Regions from separate parts of the Homo sapiens genome. Here region 1 is linked to region 2. Evidence: fine-mapped expression QTL. Tissue or cell type: whole blood. Region 2 holds a variant in brackets; the other region holds the start of a gene. All regions are shown on one strand. Distances are from middle to middle.

Region 1 (8,116 bases), 62 kb after region 2:
GGCTTTCGGGAAGGTAGGTCTGAGAACTGGGAGCACTCACATCGAATATCTGGGGCATCTGTGAAAAATAGAAGTGGGCTTGGTCTCGGTTGAAGCGCTGCAGTTGAGCCGCATATTCGTTTTTGCTTTCTTCGGCCATGTGACTCCGAAGGTGGGCTTGCTGCTTGGCCTGAAGAATGCAGAGGTGGAAGGTACTGCCAGGTTCCGATCACGTCCCACTCGGACTCCCCAAGCTTGTCCCAGACCCCGCACCCCCCCCCCGCCCCCGCCACACACACCTTCTCCACATCAGCCTTGGTGGCGTTGATATCCTGGTCTAGCCGTTCAGCAGTCTGGGCTGCCTTCTCTGCCTCCCGGCAGTCCCGCTCAAATTTACGCTTACTCTGTGTAGGGGACAGAACCGGAGTGAGGGAGCCACCATCCCAAAGACAGCAGGGTGGGAAACCAAGGTTTCAGGGATTATTGGGATGTCATCCAGTAAGTAGGGGTCAAGGGAGTACTGGAAGCCTATGGGGGAGGGAAGGTCCAGGTCTGACAAAGAGGGCAGCTCCCTGACTCCGGATCCGCAACCCTGCCCCCATGCCTCCGGGCCACAGTCACTGCTACCTCTGCAAACTCACATTCTCCAGCTGTTTAAAGCCATTTTCCAGCTGCTGCTGGGCCCGCCGCCCTTCTTGGAAGTGCTACAGAAAGAAGAGTGATAAGGCTCGCCAGGGTTCCAGCAGAAGCCCTTTGTAAAACCTGAATCGGGGGGCTCCTCACCATCTTCCTCTCCTGTTTCATCTCTTGTGAGTACTTGGTCAGCTCAAGACATACACGGACACTGAGGTTCTCAGCCACCAGCTCCCGCTGGCCTGCAAAGTCATTCACCTCCTGGAGAATCTGTACGAAGGACTGTTGCTGGCTGAATCTGGGGTTGGATGAGAATCGGGGAACAGGGAGTCAGGCCCCTCCTCCCGAGCAGGCTGATGCCCCAGGACGCACCTCCAGGTGGAAAAGGGTTAAGCCCCAAGAATGTAATCCCTGAAGCGATGACAAATTCTGGTCCATATTCCTTAACCCCAACCCTTGAGTAGATTTTTTTTTTTTTTTTTTTTGAGACAGGGTCTTGCTGTCACCCAGGCTGCAGTGCAGCGGCATGATTGCGTCTCACTGCAGCCTCAAACTCCTGGGCTCAAGTGATCCTCCCACCTCAGGCTCCCAAATAGCTGGGACCACAGGCACACGCCACCACACCTGGCTAATTTTTTTTTTCCAGATGAGGTCTCAAACTCCAATCCCCCCGAACTCCGCATCTTCCCGCCTCACCCTCCCAAAGTGCTGGGAGTACAGGTGTGAGCCACCGCACTGGACCTCGAATGTATATTGGAACACAGAATTTTCCAGTTTTTAAAGATGGTGTACAAAGCTTATACCATCTTTTCTGCATCATCTTAGTGGGGTTGGGGACATCATTTTGTAATCAAACACCGTATCTATTTGTTTTGGAGACAGAGTCTCACTCTGTCGCCCAGGCTGGAGTGCAGTGGTGCGATCTTGGCTCACTGCAACCTCCGCCTCCCGGGTTCAAGCGATTCTCATGCCTCAGCCTCCTGAGTAGCTGGGATTACAGGCGCGCACCACAACGCCTGGCTAATTTTTGTATTTTTAGAAGAGACAAGGTTTCACCATGTTGACCAGGCTGCTCTCGAACTCCTGACCTCAAGTGATCCACCTGCGCACCCTCCCAATGTGTGGGATTACAGGTGTGAGCCACTGTGCCCAACCCTATTTTTTTTTTTAATTTTACAATGAGAGGTGTTAACATTCACACTAAGTGGGATAAAAGTCAAAACTACAATTACCAGCCTGGCTAACATGGTGAAACCCTGTCTCTACTAAAAATATAAAAATTAGCTGGGCATGGTGGCAGGTGACTGTAATCCCAGCTACTAGGGAGGCTGAGGCAGGAGAATCGCTTGAACCTGGGAGGCGGAAGTTGCAGTGAGCTGAGATGGCGCCACTGCACTCCAGCCTGGGGGACAGAGTGAAACTCTGTCAAAAACAAAACAAAACAACTACAATTAACAAAAAGTTCAGGTCAGAGATTGCTGCCAAACAAGTGACCAAAACAACTTGATTTCCAGGGCTTTTTTGGATTTTGGAATTGGGGACTCAATTCCAAGTCAAATGCTCCTTACGGCGTTTGATATGGACTGCACACTGTTTAAACACATTCACTCAGCTCGTGTTCATGAAAGCCCTACAAAGCTGGAGGAATCGTCATCATTCCATTTCACAGATGAGGAAAACAGAGGCGCAAAACTTTAAGTCATCTGCCCAAAGTTACTGGTTTTGTAACTGCTGGGGCCTCTGTATTTAACAGTTAAGGAAAATAGTGGCAGAAAACCTGAGTCACAAGCCCAAGTCAATTTCTCTACATAGTAGTGGACTCAGGATTCCAAGCCAGATAATCCCGCATCTTGCATCCATGCTCTCACCTCTAGAAGGGGAAGTGAGAGGAGCGGTGGGGTGTCCCAGCTGAGGGAGGGGAAGTGAGACCCAAGCACCGCCTTTCCCCACAAATCTAGCCCTGCAGCCCCTCTCCAACCTTACTTGGACTCAGGATCATCCTTGGCAGGTCTCTTGGGCAGATATTTTTTCACCAGGCTCCTAAGGGGAGACAGAGGTAGGAGGGCTGAGCCCGCAGCCCTCCCACCGCTCCCCGTCGCCCCAGGCGCGTCCTCCGTAGCGTCCACCCCAGGGTCTCACCGCAGTTGTTTGGCGTAAGCCTGTTCCACTTCGGTGCGTTCTTTCACGAACTTTACATATCTGTCCAACAGGTCCAGCCCCCACTGCGTGTGGCGCTCGAGCACCTCGAACTGATCCTGACATGGGACATGGTGGGGGAGGAGGGGAGAGGGGCCGGGGTCACGATTTTGGGACCCCACAGCCCGCCGACCAGACTCCCAGGGAGGGCCAAGGCTCTGCGCTCCTAGAAGGAGTGGCTTCCCGGCGCCGCCCCGGCGTGGCGCGGGGGGAGGCAGGAAACTGGCGGGAACCCCCTCCCCTTCCCGGGAAGGGCCGGAGAACAGCGCCCAGGCCCCAGCCACCCCGGCCGGGAGATGGAGGTCTCCGACATAGGACCGCCAAGAGGGGCGTGGAAGGGGACAGGGCCACTCCCCCAGCTCGGGCTCCCCTAATCCCCCCGGATTCCGGAAAATCCGGCCGGCCCGGCGTGAGTCAAGGCCAGAGGGGCAGGGTTCCTGGCAGACTGGGGGCCCCTGAGTGGCCAGGGGGCAGGCACCAGGTTCCCTGAATCTCCCTGCTTCCAGGGATCCCCCGATGGGTGACTCAATTTACCCCACTGACCCCACTACACATCCAAAAGAAATCGCAGAATTGGAGGAGGGGGTGGCAGTCTGGTTACCCCCGCTGCACTAAGAACTCAGGGATTCCACCGCCCCCAGCAAGGGGAGGGGTCAGAGGTCCGGCTAGGATAGGGGGAAATTTCTGGGGCTTCCAGGGCTGAGGTTATAGGCGACCAGGGGGCGGTCCCGCCCTGGGCCTGGGGTGAGCAGGGGGAAGCCAGGGAGGGGGATCAGGCCGAGCTTAGCATCCCCCTTCCCCTCCATGAGCGTCCCCAGCCCCTAGGTGTTGATTAAAGGCGAGGGAAAGGGCGGTCAGGACTTCTAGGTCCCACGTGGGTGGGGATGAGGGTGACCAGAGGGTCCCCTCCCCCCTCCTAGCCGGACAGGCGGACGACGGGCAGGGACCCAGGGGCCGTAAGATAAGCCGCCTGCCCGGCCAGGGCGCCCAAAATAGGTGACCTCTCTCAGCCGCCCCGGCCTGGCCCCAGGATTCCTTCTGCCCGCCTCATTCGCAACCCTGTGCCTCAGTTTCCCCACTCCGGTCCGGCAAAGTCGCCCTTCGCCCCTGAGCGTGCTGAGACTCCCAGATAAACTTCGAGAGAGAGCGGAGGGTGGAGGGCGGGGACCCAGGGGTCGGTGGAAGGGAAAGGCGCGGAGCCCCCTCTAAGATACATTGGGGACAAAAGGGGGGTGCCTGGACCCCAGCAAAGGGGAACTTAGAGGCGGGCCGATTGGACTTACCCACAGCTCAGTGCCCCAATCCATGCTGCTCCCGCCGCCGCCGCCGCAGCCACCACCGCACCCGGTCCCCGCCGCCCGCCGCCCGCCGCCCTCCCCGGGGAGACTCAGCCGAGGGCGGTGCGCCTGGCCCCGCCCCGCCCCGCCCGGCCCCGCCCACCCCAGACTCTTCCCCGCCCCCCTGCACGCTCTGCCACGCCCCCACCCGCGCGGAGCCCAAGCACTGCGATTCGGGGGCGGGGCCCAACGGACGCTCCGCCCCCTTTTAAAGCAACGTTGCCACTCGACGCCGCTGGACCGACCCCTTAAAGAACCCCCACCCATTTTTTCCAAATCCCCGGGGTCCCTCTCGTCCTCTCATCTTCCTTCCCCGCTCCAAACGGTTCTTCCCATCTCCTTTTCCCCTTTCCCCGCAATTATTCCTTAAAGGGCCAAGACACTAAAACCCCAAACTCAAGAAGTCCTTCCTCAACCCCATTGCAGGGGCAACCTGAGGTCACCCCGTTCTTGCGAGCCGGCCCGGCTCCAGGCGTCTAGGTTCGTCCCACTAATGGTCTGGTCCCTCCGGCCACAGGGCGGATGAGAGGGTTTCGATCCAACCCAGGACGCGCCTTCGCCAAGGCCAGGTCCATTAACTCCCGCACCGCATCCTGCCTTCCCTCCCCCAGAGTCTCCGCTGGGAAACTGAAGACAGGCCGTCCTTGGGGCGCCAGGCCCAGGCCTTTCCCCAGCTGCCTTCCAGTTCGCGCCTGCATCTGCCCATTTTCCAGTTTAACCTGGTTTCATTCTCAGTACTGCCCCTGAGATTCCGACTCCGCCCCTCCCCCAGACATCTGGGCCATCTGGGCCCTGGAGAAGGGAAGTCTGTCACCTCTCCCATAAAAGTCTGTTCACACCTTGTAAATCCCTTTGAGGTGCTGGAATGAAAGAGGAGAGGAGGCACTGGGGATTCCCACTCCCATTCTCTCCGGGCTTTGGCGCTTTCTCTGCAGCCTCAGACAAGGCTGGGCGTCTTGCAGGGGGGCCCTTGGGTATACGTTCCCCTTACACAGAGCACCCAGGCTCCCAGAACAGAGAGATACAGCTGAGCCCAGGAGGAGAGCCTTGGGAGCCCACACTGGGACTGATGTCTCTGCTGAGACCTGGCCCCACCTGCTGGTGGCTTCTGAGCTAGAAAATGTCTGATTGCAGTTGGGCAATTGAACCCAGTGAGTTCTGTGGCTAGTCTCAAATGGGGGCTCAGCCTAGCAAAGTTCTGAGTTCACCTCTGCTCAGAGACTCAAACTGGAATTGGGGTTCAGTCCAGGTCAGCACCACCGTGGGGATAGGGGATAGAGGCCAGAGGCTTAACCAGAAGGATTAGCAACCCGGTAAGGGGTCAGGTCCAATCTGGAGTCAGGGCTAGTCCAGATCGGTGGCCTAAACCAGAGATTAAGCCTCAGTGTGTGGTGTGGGGGACGAGGGGGTGTCAGAGTTTCAGGCTGAAGTTAGGACTCAACTTGCAGAGAGGGAGTTCACCTGGGGTCAGAGTTCAGCCCGGAGTCCGGTCTAGCCTGGAATCTGGGGGTGGGGCTCCAATTGCCTCACTCTGGAATAAAAGGCTTAGCCTAAGGCTGGGGTCTCAGCCTGGGGTCATAGGTCATCCTAGGGTCAAACTTTAACCTGAGGCCAGCTTTAGGCCTCTCTGTGGACCAGGAAGATTAGGAAAACAGGTCAGGCCTGAACAGATGCGTGTGTTTACCAAAAGCCTCAGCTCTGGCTGGGAGCCACATCCCTGGCTCAAGAAGAGGAAGTCCGTCCTTGGGGATACTGGGAAAGGTAGTTTATTTAATGCTTTGTGGCCCTTGTCTGCTCCCGCTGCATTCTGGGTAATGTAGTCCCGGACAGTTAAGAGTGGGTGGAGAAATTCCGCTTTAAGGGCCGGATATCAGATCCATGACAATTGGTTAGATAAACTGCTCATTAAATCACATCCGGACAATCTTTATAGCGATTGGTGAGAGTGAGCTGGGGGTTAAGCGTTATCGGCTCTCCCATTCGGAACCGGTGCTGTCCGTCGGTGACGCAAGCAGGCGGGCTTGCGGAGAGGCAATTGCTGATTGGTTGGCGGACTGGAAACTCCGAAAGGCCGGGCCCCGCCGTGCGGCGATTGGCTCATCGGTGGGCGGGCTTGGGCGCCAGAGGCGGAGTCGGGGAGGAGGTGGCTCCAGAGATGGCAGTGAGCGAGAGGAGGGGGCTCGGCCGCGGGAGCCCCGCGGAGTGGGGGCAGCGGCTACTTCTGGTGCTGCTGCTGGGTGGCTGCTCCGGGCGCATCCACCAGCTGGCGCTGACGGTGAGGCCCGCCGCGCGAGGGTCTGGGGTCGGTGGCGCAACTTTGTCTCGGAGAAGCCCCCTGGCTTGGAGTGGTCTCGTCCGCCCTCCCCCGTCCCCGAGGCGGTGGAGTGGTCCGGCGCCCCCCGTTTCCGGGCCCGGAGTGGTCTCGTCCCGGGATCCCCTTCGGTCCTCCGGATGGAGTTGCCGGGTCCGCCTCGCTGGGGTCGGCCCCCTCCCTTCGGGGGCGAGGCTCCATCTCTTGGGGACTACACCCCCCTTCCCCCCAACTGGGTCTTAGTCCTTTAAATTCTTGGAATCACTTTTGGGGCGCTAGAGACCCTGGAGCCGCACAGCGGGGTCCTGGGGGGCTATAGAGTGGGGTCCTCTGGGCACTTAATGGGATTTGGGGGGTTCTGTTGAAATATTGCTGGGAGCTCAACTGGAATGTAAAAGTTCTTCGGGAAGGTGAAGGTCAGGCACGCCGAGGTGAATAACTGTTCTCCGGGCGGTGCTCACCCCAGTGGGGAGACTTCCAGGTGCCGCAGGATCTCTGTTCCTGGGTTCTCAGAACAGAGGTCGGAGAATGCAGGACCACCCTTCCCCTGCAGGGAGGAAGTCCCTCTCAACTTTCTCTTGTCATCCTCTGGGCCTGTCCTAAATAGAGGGGTACCAGGAGGCCCTTCTGGAGGTCCTCGTGCCAGACCCCTGGGGCTGGGCAGGCGGAAAGAGGTCTGAACTGCCTCTGCCTCCTTGGTCTCCGGCAGGGGGAGAAGCGAGCGGACATCCAGCTGAACAGCTTCGGTTTCTACACCAATGGCTCTCTGGAGGTGGAGTTGAGCGTCCTGCGGCTGGGCCTCCGGGAGGCAGAAGAGAAGTCCCTGCTGGTGAGGGACCTTGAGGAGTTTGCTGGAGGAGAGCACGGTGCAATCCCCCGGTTCTGGGTTCCCAGCTCTGCCGCTACCCATGTGATCTTGTACAAGTCCCGTCATCTCTCTGAGCCTGTTTCGTCATCTGTACCTGGGAGTAATGATGTCTTACACAGGATGTGCTAGGCACTTTTCTTAAGACTTGGGGGACAGGCGGGGCGCGGTGGCTCAGGCTTTGTAGTCCTAGCACTTTGGGAGGCCAAGGTGGGAGGATTGCCTGAGGCCAGGAGTTCAAGACCAGCCTGGGCAACATAGTGAGAACCCCGTCTCTACAAAAAGTTTTTAAAATTAGCCGGGCGTGGTGAGGTGTGCCTGTAGTCCCAGCCAGTCGGGAGGCCGAGGTGAGAGGATCGTTTGAACCTGGGAGTTCGAGGCTGTAGTGAGCTATGATCCTGCCACTGTATTCCAGCTTGAGAAACAGAATGAGGTCCACCCACCACCCCAACTCTAAAAAAGAAAAAGAGCGTGTGGGATCTAGCACATGTTAGGTGTTCAGTAAATGTGAGGTTAGGTTTCTATTGCTACTGAAAGGGATAGCTGGGAGGTCTCTACTGTCCCTCACACCCTCCCCTTTTTTTTTCCACCCACCAGGTGGGGTTCAGTCTCAGCCGGGTTCGGTCTGGCAGAGTTCGCTCCTATTCAGTGAGTGGAGGGCATGGGGAAGACGGGAGAAGGGGCTGGAGGGAGGGGGTAGGGTCTGTCCTCTGCATCTGTAACCCAAGGGCCCCTGTTCTTTGTCAGAGGCAGGAGCAGGAAGATCCCGTGGGTGGACAGGGAGGGAGACAGGGT
Region 2 (8,000 bases):
ATATATATACACATATGTGTGAGCTGTATAATTATTTCATTATATATTACAATGTAATAATAATAGAAATAAAGTGAACAATAAATGTAATGTGGTTGATTCATCCTGAAACCATCCCCCCAACTCATGTGTGTGTGCGTGTATGTGTGTGTGTGTGTGTGTGTGTGTGTGTGTATCTGTAGAAATGAGGGTCTCACTATGTTGCCCAGGCTGGTCTCGAACCCCTGGGCTCAAGTGATCCTCCTGCCTCAGCCTCCTAAGGTCCTGGGATTACAGATGTGAGCCACCACAACTGGTCTATTTTCTTTGTTTTTGTTTTGTTTTGTTTTGTTTGAGATGGAGTCTTGCTCTGTGGCCCAGGCTAGAGTGCAGTATTATGATCTCAACTCGCTGCAACCTCCACCTCCCGGGTTCAAGCGATGCTCCTGCCTCAGCCTCCTGAGTAGCTGGGATCACAGGTGTGTGCCACCATACCCAGCTAATTTTTGTATTTTTAGTAGAGACGGGGTTTCACCATGTTGGCCAGGCTGGTCTCGAACTCCTGACTGTAGGTGATCCATCCGCCTCGGCCTCCCAAAGTGCTGGGATTACAGGCATGAACCGCTGCGCCCGGCCTTACCACCGCTTTTCATGGCAATTACCTGATCACCCAAAAGTTACTACCCCTTCCCTGGAAATTTCTGCATAAACTGCCCCTTACTCTACATGTAATTAAAAGGAGGTATGGGCCGGGGGGCGGTGGCTCACACCTGTAATCCCAGCACTTAGGGAGGCTGAGGCGGGTGGTTCACGCCTCAGGAAGGTCAGGCAATCGAGACCATCCTGGCTAACATGGTGAAAACTCATCTCTACTAAAAATACAAAAAATTAGCCGGGCATGGTGGCGGGCGCCTGTAGTCCCAGCTACTTGGGAGGCTGAAGCAGGAGAATGGCGTGAACGTGGGAGGCAGAGCTTGCAGTGAGCCAAGATTGCGCCACTGCACTCCAGCCTGTGCGACAGAGCAAGACTCCGTCTCAAAAAAAAAAAAAAAAGGAGGTATGGGAAGGGCACAGTGGTTCATGCCTGTAATCCCAGCACTTTGGGAGGCCAAGGCAGGCAGAACACCTGAGGTCGGAAATTTGAGACCAGCCTGGCCAACATGGCGAAACCTCATCTCTACTAAAAATACAAAAGTTAGTCAGGCGTGGTGGCACGCGCCTGTAATCCCAGCTACTCAGAAGGGTGAGGCAGGAGAATTGCTTGAACCTGGGAGGCAGAGGTTGCAATGAGCTGAGATTGCACTACTGCACTCCAGCCTGGGCGACAGAGCAAGACTCTGTCTCTAAATAAATAAATAAATAAATATAAATAGGACCGCCAAACTGCCCTGAGCTGCTACTCTCAGCCTGTGGGGTAGCCCTGCAAGAGCAGTCATGGAGCTGTAACACTGCCACGGCAATAAAGCTGTTTTCGTCTACCCTACCACTGGAATCACCCTTGAATTCTTTCCTTAGCCTGTGAGGCTTCTTGGGTGAAACCAAGAAGCCTCACAGGCTAAGCCCCACTTTGGGGCTTGCCTGCCGTGCGTCACATTCTCTGGATTTGGACACATGTATGATGATGGGTATCCACTATTATAGTGTCATAGAGAGTATTTTCACTGCCGTGGAAAGCTTCCATGCTCTGCCTATCCATACCCCCTTTCCACTAACCTCTGACAACTACTGATCTTTTTACTGCTTCTACAGTTTTGCCTTTTCTGAAACATCACATAGCTGGTATCATATAGTATGTAGCCTTTTGGGACTGGCTTCTTTCACTTAGTAATATGCATTTGGGGTTCCTGCGTGTCTCTTCATGGCTTGAGAGCTCATCTCATCTCTCTTCAGTGCTGAATAATATTCCATTGTCTGCGCTGGGAGCAGTGGCTCACACCTGTAATCTCAGCACTTTGGGAGGCCGACGTGGCTGGATCACCTGAGGTCAGGAGTTTGAGGCCAGCCTGGCCAACATGGTGAAATCCCATCTCTACTAAAAATACAAAAATTAGCCAGGTGTGGTGGCAGGTGCCAGTAAACCCAGCTACTCAGGAGGCTGAGGCAGGAGAACAGCTTGGACCTGGGAAGCAGAGGTTGCAGTGAGCCGAGACCACACCATTGCACTCTAGCCTGGACAACAAGGGCAAAAGTCCATCTCTAATAATAATAATAATATTCCATTGTCTGGATGCACCACAGCTTATTTATCCATACGAGGAAGTAGGTGGAACTTGACTCTGGAGGTGGGGCTCAGACAACGGACCAAATTGAGGACTAGCTAAAACAGGGCTGGAGCAGAAGCACCTTTCCATAAGACATGCCCACCAGTGTGCCATGGCAGTTTGCCATTGTGATGGTAACACCAGCAGCTACTACTCCTTTCCCAAGGCAATGACCCGACAACCCAGAAGTTACCACCCTTTTCCTAGAAATTTGCATAATCTGCCCTTTAATTTGCATATAATTAAAGTGGGTACAAAGATGACTGCAACCCTGATTACTCCGGGCTCACAGCCTGTGGGGTAGCCCTGCTCTGCGAGGAGCAGGACTTCTGCAACTGCCGCTATGCACTTTCACTTCAGTAAAAGCTACTGTCTAACACCTCCAGCTCGCCCTGGAATTCTTTCCTGGGCAAAACAAAGAACCGTCCCAGGCTGAGCCCCAATTTAGGGCTTGCCTTGCCCTACATCGCATTCATCTACCGAAGGACAATTTGTTGCCTCCCAGTTTCAGCAATCATGAATAAAGCCGCTACAAAGACTTGAGTGTAAGTTTTTGTGTGGACATAAATGTTCAACTCCTTTGGGTAAATAGAGGACCTCAATACCTAGTACCATGTCTGACACATAGTAGATGCTCAATAAAATCTGTCGAATGAATAAATCTCCCTTTGACAGAGGAAACAACTGAGGCTCAGAGAGGGGATACTGCCCATCCCGGACCACACAGATAGGAATGGAGAACCAGATACCAGCACTGGATCCCAAAGTCTGTGCCTCTAACCTCTGTACAACACTGCCTCTTTGAACCACACTAAGCTGCTCCTGGTGCCTCTTAGAGAGTGGCATAATGAGGGCGCTCATGGGCAGGCAGATCACCAGAGACAATAGAGCAGATGGCTGTGTCTGTGGCTC[G/A]AGGGAGGAAGTTCCCTCCTGACCTCAGGGAGATCAGCTGAACCCGGAGACAGCTTCCTTCCAGTCATGTGATGCCTCAAAGAGGGGAAAGGGGGCATGATTCATCCCCTCTCCGGGCTGCGGTGGGGCCAGCTAAAGAAAGGGGCTCCATCAGACAGCAGCAGTGACTGCAGTTAGACCACCAGAAAGGACTTCCTGGTCGCCTGAAGAGTGTGAGAAAGTGGCAAAGGACAGGAGGTCCTTTATTTTTTTTAATTTTATTATTATTATACTTTAAATTTTAGGGTACATGTGCACAACGTGCAGGTTTGTTACATATGTATACATGTGTCATGTTGGTGTGCTGCACCCATTAACTCCTCATTTAGCATTAGGTATATCTCCTAATGTTATCCCTCCCCACTTCCCCGACCCCACAACAGTCCCCTGTGTGTGATGTTCCCCTTCCTGTGCCCATGTGTTCTCATTGTTCAATTCCCACCTATAAGTGAGAACATGCGGTGTTTGGTTTTTTGTCCTTGCTATAGTTTGCTGAGAATGATGGTCCTTTAAACAAACGTAGGAGAGGCATTATGAGGACGGTTCCTCCCTGCTGGGGGCAACCCCCCTCAGTGCCCCTCTTCCTTCCTCCAGGAAGAGGCGGGCACCCACTGTGCTGGCATCGTGCCCATATGCAAATCAGCACCCAGGCGCACTGCGGTGAACCCTGAGGTTCATTCTTCCCCATTTGCCAGCCAGCCTCCCATCAACAAAACCCCTGCCCAAGATGAAGAAAGAGCCAGAAAGGTCGGCTGGCTTTCCACGCTCCTTCGGGGAAGCAGTGTGCAGGGACAGAGGCCTCTGGGGTCTGGGAGAAGGGGACCCAGAGCCAAGCACGACGGCAGCAATCAACTCCCCACCCCCACCCCAGCACCAGGGAGCCGGCCGGAAACCGGAAATGCCTGTTACCAGGGCTTGGTTGGGGAGATAGAAAAAAGGGTGGGTGGAGGGGCCCTTTGCGTTCAACCCATCAGCCCCTTCATCAGGCAACCTCAAGCTCCCGAGGGTTCCCAGAGAGGGCGGGTGTGCTGTGCACCCTTTCAAAGCTCCGAAGCAGGGGTGCAGAGTGTGCACGCCTCATCCTAGCCCTCAAACCCTTCTGTGAGGAAGCCCGTCTCTCTTCTGCCCCATCCCCTACCACCCCAGCACACACTCCACTTTTCAGCACCGGTGGGAGGGTCAGGCAGATCTGGTTCGACTCCCAGACCAGCCCGGCAAGTTGAGGGAGCTTGGATGGGATCATTTTGCTTTCCGTTGATTCAATTGACTCATCTGTACGTCGGGAATGAAAATACTTGACCCAATGTTTGCGGTAGAGCCTGGTGTGAAACCCAGCACCCCAGACCCGGTCATGCATTAATTCAGCAAGCATGTGTGGAATGCCTACTGTATGCCAAGCACCAGAACCTAATGGTGATCAAGACAAACAGAGCTCTGCCCTTACAGGGCTTATGTAATCCAGCCAGGAGACAAACACTAAGCAGTCAGCAAGGTGAATAATTGATGATGAGGGTGGTGAGAGGGTGTGCCGGGAAGCACAGAGAGCTATGGGACCTGGTTAAATGCAGGAGGCACCTGGTAAGGCTTTGGGGTGGTACAGGAGAGAATGGTGCCATGCAGGCGACAAAGAGATGGTGAGCGGCTGGGTGCGGTGGCTCACGCCTGTAATCCCAGCACTTTGGGAGGCTGAGGCGGGCGGATCACTTGAGGTCAGGGGTTCAAGACCAGCCTGGGCAACATGGTGAAACCCCGACTGCACACACACACACACACAAAAATTTGCCAGGCGTGGTGACAGGCGCCTGTAATCCCAGCTACTCTGGAGGCTGAGGCAGGAGAATCGCTTGAACCCAGGAGGCGGAGGTGGCAGTGAGCCGAGATCACGCCACTGCACAGCCTGGGCAACAGACCGAGGATGTCTCAAAAAAACAAAAAACAAAACAAAACAAAAAAAAGAAGCTGGGTGTGGTGGCTCATGCCTGTAATCCCAGCACTTTGGGACGCTGAGGTGGGTTGATCACTTGAGGTCAGGAGTTTGAGACGCGCCTGGCCAACATATAGTGAAACCTGTCTCTGCTAAAAATACAAAATTAGCTGGGTGTGGTGGAACACGCCTGTAGTCCCAGCTACTTGGAAAGCAGAGGAAGGAGAATCGCTTGAACCCAGGAGGCAGAGGTTGCAGTGAGCCGAGATCATGCCACTGCACTCCAGCCTGGGCAACAGAGCAAGACCCCATCTCAAAAAAAAAAAATGAGACAGATAGTGAAGCAAAGAAGAGAAGCATGCTGAGCAGCTGGCAGGAACATCACATGGCAGATCCACTTTGGAAAAGTTGGTACGTTTTCCTTGTTATTACTATTATTTTTTTACCTTGCAATTCCAGCACAAAGGAAGAAAAGTTGGTACATTTTCTTCTTATTAAAAAAAAAAATTAAGAAACAGAGCCTCACTATGTCGGTCAGGTTGGTCTCAAACTCCTAGGCTCCAGCAATCCTCCCGCCTCAGTTCCCCAAAGTGCTGGAATGACAGGCATGAGCCGCCGTGACTGGCCTGGTAAGTTTTCTTAAAACATTAAGCATGCACCTATCATACGATATATTCCATTACCAGGCATTTACTCAAGAGAAATGAAAGCACATGTCCATACAAAGACTTGTACAGAATGTTCATAGCAGCTTGATTCTGTTTTCTTTTCTTTCCTTTTTTTTTTTTTTTTTTTTTTGAGACAGTCTCAGTCTGTCACCCAGGCTGGAGTGCAGCCTGGCCCAATCACAGCTCACTGCAGTCTCAAATTCCTGGGCTCAAGCAATCCTCCTGCCTCAGCCTTCCAAAGAGTTAGGACTACAGGCATGTGCCACCATATCCAGCTAGCAACTTGATTCATGATAGCCAAAAGTGCCATCAGTAATTCAAACCTCAACCAAGGGGAACATCACACACTGGGGCCTGTCGGGGGCTGGGGGTTAGGAGAGGGATAGCATTCGGAGAAATACCTAATGTAGATGATGGGTTGATGGATGCAGCAAACCACCATGGCACGTGTATACCTATGTAACAAACCTGCACGTTCTGCACATGTATCCCAGAACTTAAAGTATAGGCCGGGCATGGTGGCTCACGCCTGTAATCCCAGCACTTTGGGAGGCCGAGGTGGGCAGATTATGAGGTCAGGAGTTCGAGACCAGCCTGGTCAACATGGTGAAACCCTGTCTTTACTAAAAATACAAAAAAATTAGCCAGGCGTGGTGGCGCACACCTGTAGTCCCAGCTGTTCGAGAGGCTGAGGCAGAAGAATCGCTTGAACCTGGGAGGCGGAGGTTGCAGTGAGCCGAGATTGCGCCACTGCACTCCAGCCTGGGCGACAGAGCGAGACTCCATCTCAAAAAAACAAAGCGAAACAAACAAAAAAACCTCCATCAAGGGATGAATGGATAAACAAACTGGGGTGCATCCGTACAACAGAATGGTACACTGATACATACAACAACATGGATGAACCAGGACATCATGCTCAGGGAAAGCAGCCAGTCACAGAAGACCACAGATGGTACCATTCCACTTACATAAAACTCCAGGAAATACAAACTAATCGACAGTGACTAACAGCAAATCAGGAGGTACGAGGGAATGAGAGGTGGGAGGAGGGGGAGGCAGGGAGGGGTGGGATGGAGGAAACTTTGAGGGGCAATGGATATGATCCATTGATTTCAAGGCTGGGTTCATAGTTGCACACATATGTCAAAATTTATCAAATCAGGCCAGGTTCAGTGGCACACACCTGTAATCCCAGCTACTCAGGAGGCTAGGGTAGGAGGATCGCTTGAGTCCAGGAGTTCAAGGCCAGTCTGGGCAACATAGGGAGACCCTGATTCTTTCTTTTTTCCCCCTTCTTTTGGGTGGGGGGGGGAAGGGGAGAAACAGGGTCTCACTCTGTCACCCAGACTGGAGTGCAGTGGTGCAATCCTGGCTCACTGCAGCCTCGACTTCCTGGGTTCAAATGATCCTCCCATCTCAGCCTCCCAAGTAGCTGGGACTACAGGCACATGCCACTATGACCAGCTAATTATTTTATTTATTTATTTATTTATTTATTATTTATTAGAGATGAGGCTGGTCTCACCATGTTGCCCAGGCTGATCTCGATCTCCTAAACTCAAGCAATCCTCCCACACCAGCTTCCCAAAGGGGCGAGATTACAGGCTTCAGGCACCATGCCCTGCCAAGACCGTTTCTGAAAACAAATCTAGAAATTAAAGAAAAAATTGTTTACCAAATCATATATTTTTTTTTGAGACAGAGTCTCACTCTGTTGCCCAGGCTGGAGTGCAATGATGCGATCTCCGCTCACTGCAACCTCCGCCTCCCAGGTTCAAGCGATTCTCCTGCCTCCACCTCCTGAGTAGCTGGGATTATAGGTGCGTGCCACCATGCCTGGCTAATTTCTGTATTTTTAGTACAGACAGGGTCTCACCATGTTGGCTAGGCTGGTCTTGAACTCCTGGCCTCAAGTGATTTGCCCACCTCGGCCTCCCAAAGTGCTGGGATTACAGCGTGAGCCACCGCGCCCCACCAATGTATTTTAAATATGTAATTTACTGTATGTCAATATAGCTGGTTTTTTTTTTTTTAAGTCAGCAGGATACTGGCTGCCCTGCTGTGTCTTTCCCCTAAAACTAGGTGCATAGGATGACTATCAGCTTAGGGAGTGGGTGGGGGAGGATGGGGTGGAAAATAAGGAAATAATGTAAACCATCATTGGTCAATAATGCAAAATACAGTCTTAGTCATATTTTTGCTCCTACTCTTTTT

What was found. PIP is the estimated chance that this variant, and not a neighbour inherited with it, causes the effect.
Region 1: TRIP10 starts here. The variant in region 2 is fine-mapped to the expression of TRIP10 in whole blood (INTERVAL, PIP 0.91).

What each region holds. Positions count from the first base shown.
Region 1 is chr19:6,735,761-6,743,876 of GRCh38, reverse strand. It overlaps TRIP10 (thyroid hormone receptor interactor 10), which reads right to left and starts at 4,197. Exons shown (of 15, transcript NM_001288962.2): 1 at 4,092-4,197; 2 at 2,752-2,867; 3 at 2,596-2,652; 4 at 763-910; 5 at 621-683; 6 at 279-383; 7 at 41-169. The coding sequence starts at 4,115. It overlaps GPR108 (G protein-coupled receptor 108), which reads left to right and starts at 6,297. Exons shown (of 18, transcript NM_001080452.2): 1 at 6,297-6,420; 2 at 7,166-7,285; 3 at 7,919-7,969. The coding sequence starts at 6,301. It overlaps MIR6791 (microRNA 6791), which reads left to right and starts at 7,099; the gene lies at 7,099-7,165. RefSeq lists enhancers at 186-1,105, 3,336-4,103, 4,553-4,682, 4,703-4,792, 4,872-5,640 and 3 more and silencers at 3,943-4,032, 4,073-4,352, 6,323-6,382, 6,483-6,652, 6,801-6,962 and 1 more.
Region 2 is chr19:6,797,758-6,805,757 of GRCh38, reverse strand. All of the region lies in intron 1 of VAV1 (vav guanine nucleotide exchange factor 1), which reads right to left. Among named protein-coding and RNA genes, the nearest start is that of VAV1, 29 kb to the right of the region's middle. RefSeq lists enhancers at 2,564-2,783, 3,666-3,735, 3,526-4,046. The variant G/A (reference allele first, on the strand shown) is at 3,153.